Linked DNA regions of Homo sapiens: region 2 is linked to region 1. The links come from fine-mapping of genetic effects on gene expression. A gene starts in region 1. The other region holds a variant in brackets. All regions are shown on one strand. Distances are between the middles of the regions.

Region 1 (10,828 bases):
ACCTGAGGTCGGGAGTTCAAGACCAGCCTGGCCAACATGGCGAAATCCCGTCTCTACTAAAAGTTAAAAAATTAGCCAGGCGTAGTGGTGGGCACCTGTAATCCCAGCTACTCAGGAGGCTGAGGCAGGAGAATCGCTTGCACCGGGAGGTGGAGGTTGCAGTGAGCCGAGATTGCACCACTGCACTTCAGCCTGGGTGACAATAGTGAGACTCCGTCAAAAAAAAAAAAAAAAAAAACCTAAATAACTTAATCAGTTCTTCCCATTTCTGTATCATCAAGGGCATTCATGCATCATATGTAAGTTCTGGAACACAAATTTCCAATTAATATTTTTTATTCAAAAACATAGGATGGCATAAAAACTCAGCCACATGGGAACATTCCTAAGTATTAAGCTTCCAATGTATTTCAATTTACAAGCATTTATTGAGCACCTACTATGTGTCTAGAACCACAATAAGTGAGAGGATGTTTTAAGATATGTTCTTAGTCTGAAGGAGCTCACAGTCTAGCCAGGTTCACATATTTCACAATATTTATTGGCATGTGAGAAAATAACAAACTGCTATAAAACTTCATAGTTGGGTGAGACCACTGTGGGTTGTAGAAATAAGGAAAGGATTCTTCGGGGAGGTAAAAAGCGAATTGAATTATATCACGAAGACTTGGTTGTTGTCTTGGAGGTAAATATAGCACCTATTTCTTCATCTCCTAATTTTGAACCAATTAAGACACAGGAGCGAGACAGATGAGGATGAAAATATCACACTAAAAGGCTGAATTGACCCATGTACCTGAGGTGGGTAGCCATATGGGATTCCTCCTACTTTACCCCCTGAATGAGGTAGCCTCATTCTCCCAGTCACATGTACCATTGACCAGCATAGATTTCTGAAAGGGATGGCTGAGAGGAGTGTGCCCCATTCAGCAAGGAGGCAGAGGCTACAGATGGCTCTCAAAATCTCTCCCGGAGAGTGGAATGGAAATTCTCGGCCTCCGTGGAAACATGAGGGGTAAGCTATATATATATCCTTGTACGACTAGTAAGTTATGCCTACATTAAATTTGGTTTGGAAGTGTGTAACAAAAGTAGTGAGTCTGGATGGGTATATTAACACCAACATCATCAACAACAACATCAACATTAGTAACGTCAACAACATTATCACATCAACAATAGCAGCACAGCAGTAGTGCCAACAGCAGCAACAACGACAATAGAATAACATCTCAGCAACAAGAATAAAAATAGCAACAATAGCACTGTCAACCACATCAGCAAGAACATTAACAGTAACAACGCCAACAGCATCATCACAACATCCGCAGTAGCAGCATCAACAGCATCATCACAACACCCGCAGTAATGTCAACAGTATCATCACAACACCCACAGTAACAATGCCAACAGCAGCATCACAACATCTACAGAAACAGTGTCTAGAGCATCATCACTACTTCCATAGTTACAACATCAACAGCGATATAACAGTATCAAGAAACAACATCAGCAGCATCATCACAACACCTGTAGTAATAGTGTCAATAGCCTCATCGTGACACGGCACCCACAGTAATAGTGTCAACAGCACATCACTGTGCCCATAGTAACATCATCACAACATCCACAGCAACTGTGTTAACAGCATCACGCCAACATCTACAGTAAATGTGTTAACAGCGTCATCACAACATCCATAGTAAGTGTCAACACCACCATCACGGCATCCACAGTAAAGCTTCAACAGCATCATCACAACATCCACAGCAACAACATCATCACAGCATCCACAGTGACACTGTCAACAGCATCATTGCAACATCCACAGTGACAATGTCAACAGCATCATCACAGCAACAGTAGCAGCACATCAGCAGCAACAACTGCCACAAAATGGCAACAACAGCGGTATCAAAAATAATCAGAACAGTAGTGAAAACACTGTCACCAACAACAGCAAAAACATCAGCAACCACATAATCTGCAGAAACAGCAGCAAAAATAGCAAGAGCAGTAGCAGCAGCAGCAGTAACAATAACAAAAACAGCAGCAACACCATCAACAGCAATAACAAGGCTAGGTAGCATTTATAGAGTGCTTGTCTGACACCAGTCTCCAGGCTAAGTGCTGAACATGCATGATCTCATTTAACCCTCACAGGATTTATCTTAAACACTGGAATAGAGAGAGACTGTAGATAAAATTATGCCCATGAGATAGGTGTAATCCAGTAAAAAAGGACTCAGTTGTTTAGCTGGGTAGGTCTGGGTTCTAATCCAGATTCTTTTATTATCTAAGCAACCTCAGGCAAACTCTTTAACCTTCCTGCATTTCAATTTGTCATCTCCAAGTGGGGAAAAAAATCTGCAGCCTGGATTTGTTGTGAGGACTCAGTGAGGTCGTGCGGTGAGGTACTGGCACGTTCCCACGGGGTTACCTGGGTGGGAAGGCATCTTGTCAAATCAAACTCAAGAGGAACCACTGGGAGGATGAGGTTGTGGCTCTGCCCACCCTCTCTCTTCTCCAGTATTCTTTGTCTTTTCGTCATGTTGGTTTCTCCCAGCTGGGAGCTGTCAGAAACGCTCAGAAGGGGGGGAAAAGGCAGCCTTTCATCCCCTAAGCTTGTCATCCTCAGCTTTTTGCCAATGCTCAGTTCTTTTTTCCTAGGGAAGATAAAAAAGAAAACACATGAAAACCCCACAAACATAAACACATCAGACACAATCCTACTTCTTCAAGGCAGAGTCTCAGGAGACTGCCTTCTAAGGGGAAGACAAAGGGAGTTGGACCTTTGTCCATCTGGGAGCAGGCTCTGCGTGTTTGTTCTTAGGAGACTTGGCACAAAGGCGAAGGTTGGCTCTCCCCCTCCCAATAAATGTGGACACACTTTCCGTAGGCCCTGTGTCTGAAGGCAGCACAGTGCATTTGAGAAGCTGGGATGCTGGAAACAGCACACTTAGAATAAGCACCAAAGAGGATGGCTGAAGCAACTCCCCCACCTTGCCTGACAGAATTCATCTATGAATATAGGTACTCCTCCTTCTGTGCCAAGCATCCAATCAATGAAATGATAGTTATTCTTCCCCATTAGCTTCATGAAGTCAAAGCCTGCTTTGTTTGGTTCACCACTGTATTCACCATTACTATTGTCCCCAGTAGGTCATATTCTCCTAGAAGCAGAGCCTGAGCCAAGGATTCAATGCAAGGGATTTGTTGAGGCAGTGCTCCCGAGATGTACCAGTGAGGGAGTTGGGGGTGGGGCACAAATAGGGGAGGAGAGGAGACTCAACAAGTGTATCATCTTGGGTGACACCCCAGCCTCATCTTGGTCTTGAGTGGTGTGCTGAAGCAGAGATGATATCTCAGAGTTTGTCCTCTCCAAGGCACAGGTGCTGGGCTTTTGTATTCCCACAATGGTCAGTCACTGGCTGTGGCTTAGGGGGGATGGGAAGGGCTGAGAATGAGTTGCCAAGTTGTTCCAGCTCTCCAGGGAAGGCCCCAGTGCTCAGGGGAAACTTAGCAGCAGGGCATACAGGGGCTGGGCTGGATGCACAGGGCTGGTAAAAGGCTTCAGAGGGGGTCTGAGCTGGGCACCATCAGGGTCTGCTGTTTTTCTTTAATCCAAGAATTGAGAGAGAGAAAGCAGTAAAAAAAAAAAAAAATAGGATTGCATTGATTTCTTTTCATGTAGACTCCATGATCTGGACAGAAAGTTACCTTCATTGATGCACTGCAGTTGAGTGAGCACCGGAGACAGTCACACTGGGGTTTGGGTCAAAGGTCCAGCTGGCAGCAAAGCATTCTGGCTCTGTTTTATCTGCAGTGTCTGCAGTTCCTGTATGTAGAGGGAAGAAGGCTGGTGTTCCCAGGTCTCCTTTTATATAATTATAAAATGAGCTTTTATAATTATAAAAGCAATGCGTGAAAATAAACAAAATCAACATTCCTGAAGGGGCTAAAATATGCTCTTTTGGTAGGTTGACTATTTCAGTTAAAGGCACTTGAAAAACAGCAGGTGCAAAGAGATCAGTCTGAACTTCATTTTCTTAAAAGCAGAAGATGAAATTCCCATGTGAAAGATGTCCTCCCTACACTAGAGAAAAAGCAAGGTTCTTATCATCAAGGACAAGAAAGTTGAAGTGGAACGAATTTTGTACAAACAAGCCTTGTTCAACTAACACTTGTCATGCTGGCTACTTCTCTATCCAGTTAACCACCCTAGCCCAAGACCCTTTGCCTGATCACATGTTTACAGTTTATAATTCTTTGTCAAATCTGGTAAAGAATTAACTGACTCTGACAGCTTCTTTGTGTCTTTATTTCTTTATGAGGCTCCTATGCTATGTAAAACTTGTGTTGTGCTTTGCTCCTGTTAATCTATGTTATGTCAATGTAATTCTTGGACCCTCCTGGGACCCTAAAAGGGTGAAGTAGTATTCTTCTGTCCCAACAGTTTCTGTCCTAAAAGGCTGAGCACCTTCCGACTCACTCTGGAGCCTGCAGATGGGATCCTGAGGGGCCTAATAAATGATGGAAGAAAGTAGGAATTCTTACCAAGGTCAGCTCTCCTGGATTTCCGTCCATAGTGTCCAATTGAAAGAAGAAGGTAAAAATTTTTGCGTGTTCCTTCCTTCCCAAATTCAACTGACAGGAAAAAAAAAATTGTAAAAAATTGGTTCTTTGAATTGTGAGTCTTGTGAATTTGCTTCTGGGTGTCCATTGGTAATTGATCCACAGCCTCCCAGGAAGTCCTTGTTTTTCTTATCTCTGTCTTTTGTGTGGGTTGTCATAAGGAAGAAAATTATAATTAATTAGATTTGAGGTAGGAGGCTGGCAGGGCTTGTTTTCTGGTCATGACCTCACTGATCTGGTTTGAAAGGATATGGTTGAAACAGAATGCAGTGAAGAAGCCAGCCAAAATAAGCAGATGGCCATGAAAGTGACCTGTAGTTGCCCTCACTACTCATTAGCATAAAGACATTCCCATGGGTGCCGTGACAGTTTACACATGCCATGGCAATGGGCCATAGCAATGGCCTGGAAGTTACCATATATGGTTCTGGACGCTCTCGGCCCCTTTTCCAGAATGTTCTGAATAATCCACCTCTTAATTAGCATATAATTAAAAGTGGGTATAAATACAGCTGCCAACAGCTTACACATTGCTGACTCTGGGCACACTGCTTATGGGTTAGCCCTGCTCTGCAAGGAGCAGCACTGGCTCCATAAACACTGCTTTCTGTCACCACTGGCTCACCCTTGAGTTCGTTCCTGGGTGAAGCCAACAACCCTCTCAGGTTGATCCCCAATTTTGAGGCTCACCTGTCCTGCATCAGACTCTGCTTCATCTTCTCTGAAGTCATAAGAGCTTGGCTTTGTAATCAGTGAAAATGTGCTCTTTGGTTTCTATCAGCCTGGGGCTCAAGCTGTTGGGCTTGTGCCCAGCAGTTAGCCAGCTCTCCAGGATTCTGAAACAAGAAGTGTCTCTTTGTATGAACTGTGCCAGCTCTCAGGACAGTTTGTCGTAATTGTCTCAGCCTTTGTTGCCCTGTTAACAATGAGGGTCTTCACTTTCTTAGGTATCCTTGGAGGAAACTTTGGATCTGGGGTGGGGGTGGGACTTCTGTACCCTCTTTATGGATGCCTCTTTTGTCCATGATTAAACCATAAAAAGATGATCAGTTTTGAGTCAAAACTGAAGTAGGTATACCTTTGAAAATTTGGACTTTTGTATCTAAAAGTATTTTTTTTAAGAGAACTCTCATCCTAAGTAACTGTCCTATTGGTACCTATGTGAAGATTTGGCTTAAAAGAAAAAAAAACTTATATAAATTGTTATCTCAGAAAAAGAGAAACTAACCTAAGTGTTTTTCAAGTTCACGTGGTTTTACATAATCTTTGGTAAATAAAAACCTACTTAAAGTTTGCTGATTTAATTAAACCAGCAATATTATTATACTTTAAGTTTTAGGGTACATGTGCACAATTTGCAGATTTGTTACATATGTATACATGTGCCAAGTTGGTGTACTGCACCCATTTAGCACATTTCGCACCCATAATGCACGTCATTTAGCATGAACTCATCATTTTTTATGGCTGCATAGTATTCCATGGTGTGGATGTGCCATATTTTCTTAATCCAGTCTATCGTTGTTGGACATTTGGGTTGGTTCCAAGTCTTTGCTATTGTGAATAGTGCCGCAATAAACATACGTGTGCATGTGTCTTTATAGCAGCAAGATTTATATTCCTTTGGGTATATACCCAGTAATGGGATGGCTGGGTCAAATGGTATTTCTAGTTCTAGAACCCTGAGGAATCGCCACACTCACTTCCACAATGGTTGAACTAGTTTACAGTCCCACCAACAGTGTAAAAGTGTTCCTATTTCTCCACATCCTCTCCAGCACCTGTTGTTTCCTGACTTTTTAATGATTGCCATTCTAACTGGTGTGAGATGGTATCTCATTGTGGTTTTGATTTGCATTTCTCTGATGGCTAGTGATGAGGAGCATTTTTTCATGTCTCTTTTGGCTGCATAAATGTCTCCTTTTGAGAAGTGTCTGTTCATATCCTTCGCCCAGTTTTTGATGAGGTTGTTTGTTTTTTTCTTGTAAATTTGTTTGAGTTCATTGTAGATTCTGGATATTAGCCCTTTGTCAGATGAGTAGGTTGGGAAAATGTTCTCCTATTTTGTCGGTTGCCTGTTCACTCTGATGGTAGTTTCTTTTGCTGTGCAGAAGCTCTTTCGTTTAATTAGATCCCATTTGTCAATTTTGGCTTTTGTTACCATTGCTTTTGGTGTTTTAGACATGAAATCCTTGCCCATGCCTATGTCCTGAATGGTATTGCCTAGGTTTTCTTCTAGGGTTTTCATGGTTTTAGGTCTAACATTTAAGTCTTTAATCCATCTTGAATTAATTTTTGTATAAGGTGTAAGGAAGGGATCCAGTTTCAGCTTTCTCCATATGGCTAGCCAGTTTTCCCAGCACCATTTATTAAATAGGGAATCCTTTCCCCATTGCTTGTTTTTCTCAGGTTTGTCAAAGATCAGATAGTTGTAGATATGTGGCATTATTTCTGAGGGCTCTGTTCTGTTCCATTGATCTATATCTCTGTTTTGGTACCAGTACCATGCTGTTTTGGTTACTGTAGCCTTGTAGTATAGTTTGAAGTCAGGTAGCGTGATGCCTGCGGCTTTGTTCTTTTGGCTTAGGATTCACTTGGTGATGCGGGCTCTTTTTTGATTCCATATGAACTTTAAAGTAGTTTTTTCCAATTCTGTGAAGAAAGTCATTGGTAGCTTGATGGGGATGGCATTGAATCTATAAATTACCTTGGGCAGTATGGCCGTTTTCACGATATTGATTCTTCCTACCCATGAGCATGGAATGTTCTTCCATTTGTTTGTATCTTCTTTTATTTCATTGAGCAGTGGTTTGTAGTTCTTCTTGAAGAGGTCCTTCACATCCCTTGTAAGTTGGATTCCTAGGTATTTTATTCTCTTTGAAGCAATAGTGAATGGGAGTTCACTCATGATTTGGCTCTCTGTTTGTCTGTTATTGGTGTATAAGAATGCTTGTGATTTTTGTACATTGATTTTGTATCCTGAGACTTTGCTGAAGTTGCTTATCAGCTTAAGGAGACTTTGGGCTGAGACAATGGGGTTTTCTAGATATACAATCATGTCATCTGCAAACAGGGACAATTTGACTTCCTCTTTTCCAAATTGAACACACTTTATTTCCTTCTCCTGCCTAATTGCCCTGGCCAGAACTTCCAACACTATGTTGAATAGGAGTGGTGAGAGAGGGCATCCCTGTCTTGTGCCAGTTTTCAAAGGGAATGCTTCCAGTTTTTGCCCATTCAGCATGATATTGGCTGTGGGTTTGTCATAGATAGCTCTTACTATTTTGAGATACGTCCCATCAATACAGAATTTCTTGAGAGTTTTTAGCATGAAGGTTGTTGAATTTTGTCAAAGGCCTTTTCTGCATCTATTGAGATAATCATGTGGTTTTTGTCTTTGGTTTTGTTTATATGCTGGATTACATTTATTGATTTGTGTATGTTGAACCAGCCTTGCATCCCAGGGATGAAGCTCACTTGATCATGGTAGATAAGCTTTTTGATGTGCTGCTGGATTCGGTTTGCCAGTATTTTATTGAGGATTTTTGCATCAATGTTCATCAAGGATATTGGTCTAAAATTCTCTTTTTTGGTTGTGTCTCTGCCCGGCTTTGGTATCAGGATGATGCTGGCCTCATAAAATGAGTTAGGGAGGATTCCCTCTTTTTCTATTGATTGGAATCATTTCAGAAGGAATGGTACCAGCTCCTTCTTGTACCTGTGATAGAATTCGGCTGTGAATCCATCTGGTCCTGAACTCTTTTTGGTTGGTAAGCTATTGAATATTGCCACAATTTCAGAGCCTGTTATTGGTCTATTCAGAGATTCAACTTCCTCCTGGTTTAGTGTTGGGAGGGCGTATGTGTCGAGGAATTTATCCATTTCTTCTAGATTTTCTAGTTTATTTGCGTAGAGGTGTTTGTAGTATTCTCTGATGGTAGTTTGTATTTCTGTGGGATCGGTGGTGATATCCCCTTTATCATTTTTTATTGGGTCTATTTGATTCTTCTCTCTTTTCTTCTTTATTAGTCTTGCTAGCAGTCTATCAATTTTGTTGATCTTCTCAAAAAACCAGCTTCTGGATTCATTAATTTTTTGAAGGGTTTTTTATGTCTCTATTTCCTTCAGTTCTGCTCTGATTTTAGTTATTTCCTGCCTTCTACTAGCTTTTGAATGTGTACGCTCTTGCTTTTCTAGTTCTTTTAATTGTGATGTTAGGGTGTCAATTTTGGATCTTTCCTGCTTTCTCTTGTGGGCATTTAGTGCTATAAATTTCCCTCTACACACTGCTTTGAATGCGTCCCAGAGATTCTGGTATGTTGTGTCTTTCTTCTGGTTGGTTTCAAAGAACATCTTTATTTCTGCCTTCATTTTGTTATGTACCCAGTAGTCATTCAGGAGCAGGTTGTTCAGTTTCCGTGTAGTTGAGCGGTTTTGAGTGAGTTTCTTAATCCTGAGTTGTAGTTTGATTGTACTGTGGTCTGAGAGAAAGTTTGTTATAATTTCTGTTCTTTTACATTTGCTGAGGAGAGCATTACTTCCAAGTATGTGGTCAATTTTGAAATAGGTGTGGTGTGGTGCTGAAAAAAAATGTATATTCTGTTGATTTGGGGTGGAGAGTTCTGTACATATCTATTAGGTCTGCTTGGTGCAGAGCTGAGTTCAATTCCTGGGTATCCTTGTTAACTTTCTGTCTCATTGATCTGTCTAATGTTGACAGTGGGGTGTTAAAGTCTCCCATTATTATTGTGTGGGAGTCTAAGTCTCTTTGTAGTTCACTCAGGACTTGCTTTATGAATCTGGGTGCTCTTGTATTGGGTGCATATATATTTAGGATAGTTAGCTCTTCTTGTTGAATTGATCCCTTTACCATTATGTAATGGCCTGGTCTCTTTTGATCTTTGTTGGTTTAAATTCTGTTTTATCAGAGACTAGGATTGCAACCCCTACCTTTTTTTGTTTTCCATTTGCTTTATTTTGAGCCTACGTGTGTCTCTGCACATGAGATTGGTTTCCTGAATACAGCACACTGATGGGTCTTGACTCTTTATCCATTTTGCCAGTCTGTGTCTTTTAACTGGAGCATTTAGTCCATTTACATTTAAAGTTAATATTGTTATGTGTGAATTTGTTTCTGTTATTATGATGTTAGCTGGTTATTTTGCTCATTAGTTGATGCAGTTTCTTCCTAGCCTCCATGGTCTTTACAATTTGGCATGTTTTTGCAGTGGCTGGTACCGGTTGTTCCTTTCCATGTTTAGTGCTTCGTTCAGGAGCTCTTTTAGGGCAGGCCTGGTGGTGACACAATCTCTCAGCATTTGCTTGTCTGTAAAGTATTTTATTTCTCCTTCACTTATGAATCTTAGTTTGGCTGGATATGAAATTTTGGGTTGAAAATTATTTTCTTTAGGAATGTTGGATATTGGCCCCCACTCTCTTCTGGCTTGTAGAGTTTCTGCCGAGCGATCACCTGTTAGTCTGATGGGCTTCCCTTTGTGGGTAACCCGACCTTTCTCTCTGGGTGCCCTTAACATTTTTTCCTTCATTTCAACTTTGGTGAATCTAACAATTATGTGTCTTGGAGCTGCTTTTCTCGAGGAGTATCTTTGTGGTGTTCTCTGTATTTCCTGAATCTGAATGTTGGCCTGCCTTGCTAGATTGGGGAGGTTCTCCTGGATAATATCCTTCAGAGTGTTTTCCAACTTGGTTCTATTCTCCCCGTCACTTTCAGGTACACCAATCAGACATAGATTTGGTCTTCTCACATAGTCCTATATTTCCTGGAGACTTTGTCCCTTTCTTTTTATTCTTTTTTCTCTAAACTTCCCTTCTCGCTTCATTTCATTCATCTTCCATCACTGATACCCTTTCTTCCAGTTGATCGCATCAGCTCCTGAGGCTTCTGCATTCTTTATGTAGTTCTTGAGCCTTGGTTTTCAGCTCCATCAGGTCCTTTAAGGACTTCTCTGCATTGGTTATTCTAGTTATCCATTCGTCTAATTTTTTTCCAAGTTTTTAACTTCTTTGCCATTGGTTTGAATTTCCTCCTGTAGCTCGGAGTAGTTTGATCGTCTGAAGCCTTCTTCTCTCAACTCGTCCAAGTCATTCTCCATCCAGCTTTGTTCTATTGCTGGTGAGGAACTGCGTTCCTTTGGAGGAGAGGCGCTCTGCTTTTTAGAGTTTCCAGTTTTTC
Region 2 (8,000 bases), 23 kb before region 1:
AGGTACAGGCATTGGGTAAATACAGCCATTCCAAATGGGAGAAATTGACCAAAAGAGAGGGGCTACAGGCCCCATGCAAGCCCAAAATCCAGCAGGGCAGTCAAATCTTACAGCTCCAAAATGATGTCCTTTGATTCCATGTCTCACATCCAGGTCATGCTGTTGCAAGAGGTGAGTTCCCCTAGTCTTGGGCAACTCTACCCCTGTGTCTTTGAAGGGCACAGCCCCCCTCCTGGCTGCTTTCATGGGCTGGCATTGAGTGTCTGCAGCTTTTCCAGGTGCATGATGCAAGCTGTCAGTGGATCTACCATTCTGGGGTCTGGAGTACAGTGGCCCTCTTCTCACGGCTCCACTAGGTGATGCCCCAGTAGGGACTCTGTGTGGGTGCTCCAACCCCACATTTTCCTTTCACACTGCCCTGGCAGAGGTTCTCCATGAGGGCCCCACCCCTGCAGCACACCTCTGCCTGGACATCCAGGCATTTCCATACAATTTCTGAAATCTAGGCAGAGGTTCCCAAACCACAATTTTTGACTTCTGTGCACTCACAGGCTCAACACCACGTGGCTGCCAAGGCTTGGGGCTTGCATCCTCTGAAGCCACAGCCTGAGCTCTATGTTGGCCCCTTTCAGCCATGGCTGGAGCAGCTGGGATGCAGGGCACCAAGTCCCTAGGCTGCACACAGCATGGGGACCGTGGGCCAGGCCCACAAAACCACTTTTTCTTCCTAAGCCTCCAGGCCTGTGATGGTAGGGGCTGCTGTGAAGACTTCTGACCTGCCCTGGAGACATTTTCCCCATTGTCTTGGGGATTAACATTGGGCTCCTCATTACTTATGCAAATTTCTGCAGCTGGCTTGAATTTCTCCACAGAAGATAGGATTTTCTTTTCTATTGCGTTCTCAGGCTGCAAATTTTCCAAACTTTTATGCTCTGTTTCCCCTTTAAAACTGAATGCCTTTAACAGCACGCAAGTCACCTCTTGAATGCTTTGCTGCTAGAAATTTCTTCCGCCGGATACCCTAAATCATCTCTTTAAGTTCAGAGTTCCACAAATCTCTAGGATAGGGGCAAAATGCCACCAGTCTCTTTGCTAAAACATAACAAGAGTCACCTTCGCTCTGGTTCCCAACAGGTTCCTCATCTCCATCTGAGACCACCTCAGCCTGGATTTCATTGTCCATATCATTATCAGTATTTTGGTCAAAGCCATTCAACAAGTCTCTATGGAGTTCCAAACTTTCCCACATTTTCCTGTCTTCTTCTGAGCCCTCCAAACTGTTCCAACATGTCTGATACCCAGTTCCAAAGTTGCTTCCACATTTTTGGGTATCTTTTCAGCAGCACCCCACTCCCAGTACCAATTTACTGTATTAGTTCATTTTCACACTGCTAATAAAGACACATCCGAGACTGGGCAATTTATACAGGAAAAATGCTGAATAGACTTACAGTTTCACATGGCTGGGGAGGCTTCACAATCATGGCAGAAAGCAAGGACGAGCAAGTCACATATTACATGGATGACAGCAGGCAAAATGAGTTTGTGCAGGCAAACTCCCATTTTTAAAACCATCAGATTTCATAAGACTTATTCACTATCACAAGAACAGCACAGGAAAGACCAGCCCCCATGATTCAATTACCTCCCACAACATGTGGGAATTCAAGATTAGATTTGGGGGGATACAGCAAAACCATATAAAGGGAAGGAAGAGTGAGCAGGGCCTGTTGTCTTATGCCATAAAATTCATTCAGTTATTTACTTCTAAACTTTGGATATGCATTACTTTTATTAAAAACCTCAAAGTCCTTGGTATTTGGAATCAGAATTCTGGGTTCATTCTCGGTTCTGTCACTTCTGTGAGAGGGTTTGACCTCACAGCTTCATTTTTCTTATTTGTAAAATGGAGACTGTATCACTGGCTAAGTAAGCGGATCGTGAAGATCAGAAAGACTAAATGTCCAATGATGAGCACATCAGCTGGAAAATGGGTAAATGCTTTAAATCACTATGAAGAAAATCTGTGTGGCAGAATGGGAGATGCACATGTGGGCATTGTCAGGGGACAGCCCCTGTGTTAGGCTCTGCTTAGCCCCTCAGACTACCTGTGAGACCCTGGACAAGTTCTTCAACCTCTTTACTACTCATTGTATTCCCCTGTCGAAGGAGGATATGAAACAATCCTCATCTTACAATTATTGCAGGGAGTAAAATAGAAAGCAAACTCCCGTACCCGGGTACCCAGTACAGGTTAAGTGCCTAATCAATGATGGCTAGTTGTGTTGTATTATTGATGAAATTATATTGACATTATAACAATATATCTTAATATAAAAATTGTAGGTTAGTTTTATTGTTGCTATTCAGTTTCAAAATTATGTTAATGAATATTTGATGACCTGAGAAAGCTTTAGTAAATAATGGTAATAAAAAAAGAAGCAGTATTAAATGATAGTACCCAGCCTTCAATCACTGTCTATTCAGGGAGGGAGGGAGGGAGGGACGGAAGAAAGAAAGAAAGAAGGAAGGAAGGAAGGAAGGAAGGAAGGAAGGAAGGGCTCTTGTTTTAGTAAGTGAGTACATATAAATAAAAACAACAAGGAAAGTAGAGCAAATGTTAGCACTGCTTGTCCCTGGAGGGTCATCTACAGGTGATTTTCTTTTATTTTTCCTTTGTGCCTTCTGTAGCTTCCAAATTTGTGTAAATGAATCTCTATTGCCTTTGTCATCAGATAAGAGCACAAAAAATGATATCTGAAATCACAGGTTTGGAATAGAGAAAATAATTTTTCATATTTTACCTTGTAATCATATTTCTGGCTTAGGGGTATCTAAAATCCATTTCACATAACAATAATCAACCACAAAATGATTCTTCTTAGCAATTATTGTACTTTTCTATGATTGGGTAAATTTTCTGCAGACACTCTCTGCATCAGATAAACATTGAGTTCCACTGCATGTAAATAGTAGTGATTTAAATAAAATATGTGTTTAATTTCCTCACATGTGACACACAACTTAGAAGTAGGCAAGGTGGGCTGGAGAAGAGCTCCACAATGTCATCAATGCCATCTTTCTGCTTGGTCATCCTAGATGCATGGCTTCCACCCTCAAGGTTGTCTCATGGTTTCAAGGTGGCTGCTGCAGCTCCCATCATTTCTTCCTCATTCCAGGTGAAGAGAAGTTTTGAGGGATCTTTGGGGTATCACTTTTCTGGCTGGAAATCTCTGTGGCTGGTGGCACCTTTGCCCAAGTTTTGCTTGGGCCTGCTGGGTTCATTTTTCCCACTTGTCCTGGCAGGCTGTGCTTGGCTCACACTACCAGCCTAGATCCCATGCCTGCCAAAGGCAGCAAGGCATGGAGTGGCAAGGGGTGTGTGAGTGAACCAGCGAGGGGTCCAGCCACCGTGCACAGTCAGGCACACCAGCTGCTGCAATGGGGTGGGCAGCTCCAGGTGCCGGCGTGGGCACCGACTCTCTG[C/T]GAGGCTGTGGCTAGACCAGGTGCACCACAGGTAGCTTCCATGGCTGCCACTGGGGAATGCGGTGGCACACGGAAGCTTGGAGAATCCAGGAACCACTGGGCCCCAAAGAGGAAGTCACAGCCTTGGCTCAGGGAGCTCCCAGGTCTGGGCTTACTGAAGGGCTGAAGCTCTTCTCTTCTCTTCAACCACAACATGGCGAGCAAGGGGTATGTTTCAGCCCTGTTTGTGTTATAGCTCTTTCAGCCTGCCTTCCGCAGGTCCCAAGTTCTTATCCTGCGTCCAAGAAGAATGAAGCACGCAGACAAGTGGAGGGTAAGCAAGGTGAAGAGGAGCTTTATTGAGTGACACAGTAGCTCAGAGGAGGCCCAGGAGTGGGTAGCTCCTCTCTGCAGCTGGTCATCCTGATGTCTGCTCAGCTTTGGCTGAACCTGGGGCTTGTATGGGCTTCAGAGGGGAGGAAGTGTATGCCAGTTGGTCCATGGATGGCCATGAATGGCCTGGAAAAGGCACCACAAGTTCCCACTCTGGTCCGTGGGACCGGCAGCTGGGCCCCCAGCCTACAGATCCTCCCTCCCTGAAGGAGGGCCTGAAGGTGGTGCCTCACTGGGGATCTGCCCCCTTCCACCCAGGAACCTCTCTGCCTCCTGCTGCCATTCATGGCGCCCAGGCTGTAGGTGCCAAGAGGCACCTGCAGGCCAGCCATAAGCTGCCTTCAGCACCCCTTTGGCTTCCCTCCTATGCTTATTGGTGTCCAAAGTCCAGAGGGGGCTGAGGCAGTGGGGGGCTGGCATGTCAGCACCGCCCAAAGTGTGTGCACACCTGGCGAAGCTGTGACTTGGCCCTGACTTTGCTCTGAGATCGGAGCAGGCACCAACAGCAGGGAGAAGCCAGGCAGTGGGAGCAGGCATTTCTGAGCCTGCAAGGGCATGGGGGCCTTCCTGGACCCCCAAGAGTGCAGAGATTCCTGAGTCTGCAGCTGTGGTTTGGGAGGCTGTAGCTGTGGCCACAGGGGTGGGGCTCCTGCCTGCTCCATGGAGTAGAAGGCCTGGTTCCACAGTCACAACTTGGGCAGCTGTGGCTGCACCAGGGAAGCTCCTTCCCCACCAATCTGGAAGGTGCAGGGCTCCCACTTGTCCCTGGCTCCCACCAGCTCCATGGAGTATGCCTCCTTGCTGCAGCCAGCATGATGGCAGCAGCCACTCTAGACAGGCTGCTGCTGCCATCAGATGGAGAAAGCAATAGAGCAAAGTGTAATAGCTATGTCAGTTCCCTTTTTTTTTTCAATTTTATTATTATTATACTTTAAGTTTTAGGGTACATGTGCACAACATGCAGGTTTGTTACATATGTATACATGTGCCATGTTGGTGTGCTGCACCCACTAACTCGTCATTTAGCATTAGGTATATCTCCTAATGCTATCCCTGCCCCATCCCCCCACCCCACAATGGTCCCTGGTGTGTGATGTTCCCCTTCCTGTGTCCATGTGTTCTCATTGTTCAATTCCCACCTATGAGTGAGAACATGCGGTGTTTGGTTTTTTGTCCTTGCGATAGTTTGCTGAGAATGATGGTTTCCAGTTTCATCCATGTCCCTACAAAGGACATGAACTCATCATTTTTTTATGGCTGCATAGTATTCCATGGTGTATATGTGCCACGTTTCCTTAATCCAGTCTATCGTTGTTGGACATTTAGGTTGGTTCCAAGTCTTTGCTATTGTGAACAGTGCCGCAGTAAACATACGTATGCATGTGCCTTTATAGCAGCATGATTTATAGTCCTTTGGGTATATACCCAGTAATGGGATGGCTGGGTCAAATGGTATGTCTAGTTCTAGATCCCCGAGGAATTGCCACACTCACTTCCACAATGGTTGAACTAGTTTACAGTCCCACCAACAGTGTAAAAGTGTTCCTGTTTCTCCACATCCTCTCCAGCACCTGTTGTTTCCTGACTTTTTAATGATTGCCATTCTAACTGGTGTGAGATGGTATCTCATTGTGGTTTTGATTTGCATTTCTCTGATGGCCAGTGATGGTGAGCATTTTTTCATGTGTTTTGTGGCTGCATAAATGTCTTCTTTTCCCTTTTAAGAGCTTTTCCAGAAGCCCCACTTAGTGACATCTTCTTGCAAATCATTTCCCAATTCTCCTCTCTTCCTCATCCCTGCAGCACCTTACCTCCTGTTGGACTAGAAAATGGATTTTTATTTGTAATGGTTTTTTTTGCCAATTTTGTTATTTGTGGTATAATCTTTATACTAAATCTTTATACAGAACTGAGTCCCATGACCACCCCAACTTGCAAGGGATGATAAGAAAGGTCATTTTAAATTGGGACTCTCTAGTATGATAGAAAGGGAGAAAGGGTTTGGGTAGGTAACTCGTCTCTGCCAAATTCCCATGTGGCCAGTAGGGAACCAGAGATGGTCCAGCCTCTTCTCTTGCAGGGAGAGGAAGCTCCTGTCTTCTGCATAGATTCCTGCTTCCTCCTGATAACTCTGTGTTTTGAGTAATGAATAATAATATCAGAAGCAAACATTACCTGTTACTGTTCTCATTTTTATATCTGAGGAAACTGGGCTCAGATGAGTAATTCCCTCAGAGTCACCAGCTTAGCAAATTCCAGAGTCAGGCTTCTAACTCATCTGTCTGACTCGGAAGCCTGTGTTCTTTCTAACACACCATACTGACTTCCCTGGCCTGAAAGTGGAATCATTATCTATTTATTCTTTCAACCATTTCTGTGTGTCATTTATTTATGGGCATCTAGTAGATATTCAGTAAATGTTTGTTCAATGGATGAATGAATGAATGAGCGAATGTCTCCTGGAGAGGAGCTCACTATCTACATGGGGACACAGATCCCATACAGGGCCATCTATAGGTGTTGTGAAGCATTGTGGAAGGAAGCCCCCTTTCTGGGAGTGCCTCAGGTAAACTACACGAAGAATAGAACGTTGCACCTGAGCCTGGAGGGCCGAGCAGCAGGCTGTGTCAGTGAAGGGTGTTGGAAGCAGAAGGAACAGCATGTGCTCAGGCTTGAGGTGCAGTGCCAGTGCTGTAGGGATTTTACTGTGGCTGGAGAGACAGGAGTGAGGAGGCTCTGAAGCTAAGGGAGCCAGGGTGGGCAGGGCTGGTGCTGGGGGCTGCAGGGCTGGATCTGTATGTCCTTGGGAGGAACAGGTTGAGAAACCGAGTTTTGATCTGTGGGTCCCAATCCTGAGCATCCAACGGTGGTCACTCACTCCATGTTTTCCCCACAGTATTGGTAACTCCTCACCCCCTCTCTTCTCTGTTTAGTTCTCTGTGATTCTATTTTTGGAGTTTACAAAGTGAACATCCAGTGTGATATGCGGAGAACTCTGGTGATTTGTCCTGAAGCTGTTTCATTTTTTTTGAATTATGGGAGTCTACTCTTCCCTCTTGGGGACCTGGGAGGATTGAACAGCCAAGGGCTTCCCACGGAGTCACTCTCAGCTCTCTGACTCCTGCACTGATTGTGTTGCACTTGTTTTGAAGGCTAATGAGTATGGGAGGTACCCAAACTTTCCACAGAATTGCACCTCTTGTGTGCGTGCATGTGTGTGGGGGGTAGCATGAGACGGATAATCAAATTATTTCCAGAGAAAATAAATTTGAATCTCAGAGGGCTCTGTGAAAGCAGGGACCAATCAATTCCTTCTGCTGTTGATCCACTATTTGACAACTTGCAGATAAAGGTTGTGAAAACAGAATTTTCTCTCTTTTTTTTTTTTTCCATAACAACTTCATTTCCATTTCTAGCCAACATTCATTTTGCAAAAAGCCTTAGGTTGTGGCCAGGTAAGCCCTGTCAAATTCAGTGATTTCCTAGTTAATTTTAGTTTAAACTCAGGTGACCGCAGGGTGTCTCCCTCCCTCTTCTCTCATAGATTTCAGTTTTCATGTGGCAAGTGGGTGTCTGGTGCCCAGTTCCACCGCGTGAGCACCTGGAGGTGCACAATTTGCCGACCTGATGTTCTGAGGTCGATCTCCTGTCCACTGGTCACGAGGGTGCCCACACTGTCACCTGTGCTTGGGTCTCCTCATGATGGCCCTGGAGCCCTCGGGCTTAGCTGAGACCTGAGGCCTGAGGCCTGCACCCCTTTCTGGGCACAAGAAATGTGCTATGCAGGGGTGGTGGATGCTGTGAGAGTGTCCTGCCCAGATGCCCCTCGCAGCCCTGGTGCCAACCCCACAGGGGCTGGAACTGCAATTAATAAGCAGGTACCATTTCCCTCTCCGGTTCCCCTGACCTCTTACCTACCTGGGGTTTCTATAATATTCCCTATTATCCCCCACCCCTATGGTTCTTCCTGGAGGGATTTGGTGTGGAACTCCTTCTGGAACACACTCCCATCAGCCCCTTTCCCGATTCTCCTCTCTTCCTCGTCCCCCTGGCACCTTACCTCCTGTTGGGCTAGGAAACTGGTTTTTATTTGTAATGTATTTTTGCCAATTTTGTTATTTGTGGTATACTCTGTATACTAA

Direction of the effects. Alleles are on the strand shown, and positions count from the first base shown. SD is a standard deviation of normalised expression in the study named.
For the expression in thyroid of the gene that starts at base 5,485 in region 1, allele T in region 2 goes with a higher level than allele C (moderate effect, 0.54 SD a copy in GTEx).

What was found. PIP is the estimated chance that this variant, and not a neighbour inherited with it, causes the effect.
Region 2: its variant is fine-mapped to the expression of LINC01587 in thyroid (GTEx, PIP 0.94).

What each region holds. Positions count from the first base shown.
Region 1 is chr4:5,519,226-5,530,053 of GRCh38, reverse strand. LINC01587 (long intergenic non-protein coding RNA 1587) reads right to left here and starts at 5,485. Exons shown (of 4, transcript NR_126519.1): 1 at 5,326-5,485; 2 at 4,558-4,647; 3 at 3,721-3,838; 4 at 2,253-2,666. It also overlaps a transcript of EVC2 not described here. RefSeq lists an enhancer at 3,901-5,100.
Region 2 is chr4:5,543,497-5,551,496 of GRCh38, reverse strand. LOC124900166 (a long non-coding RNA gene) reads left to right here and starts at 1,606. Exons shown (of 2, transcript XR_007058006.1): 1 at 1,606-8,000. It also overlaps a transcript of EVC2 not described here. The variant C/T (reference allele first, on the strand shown) is at 3,487.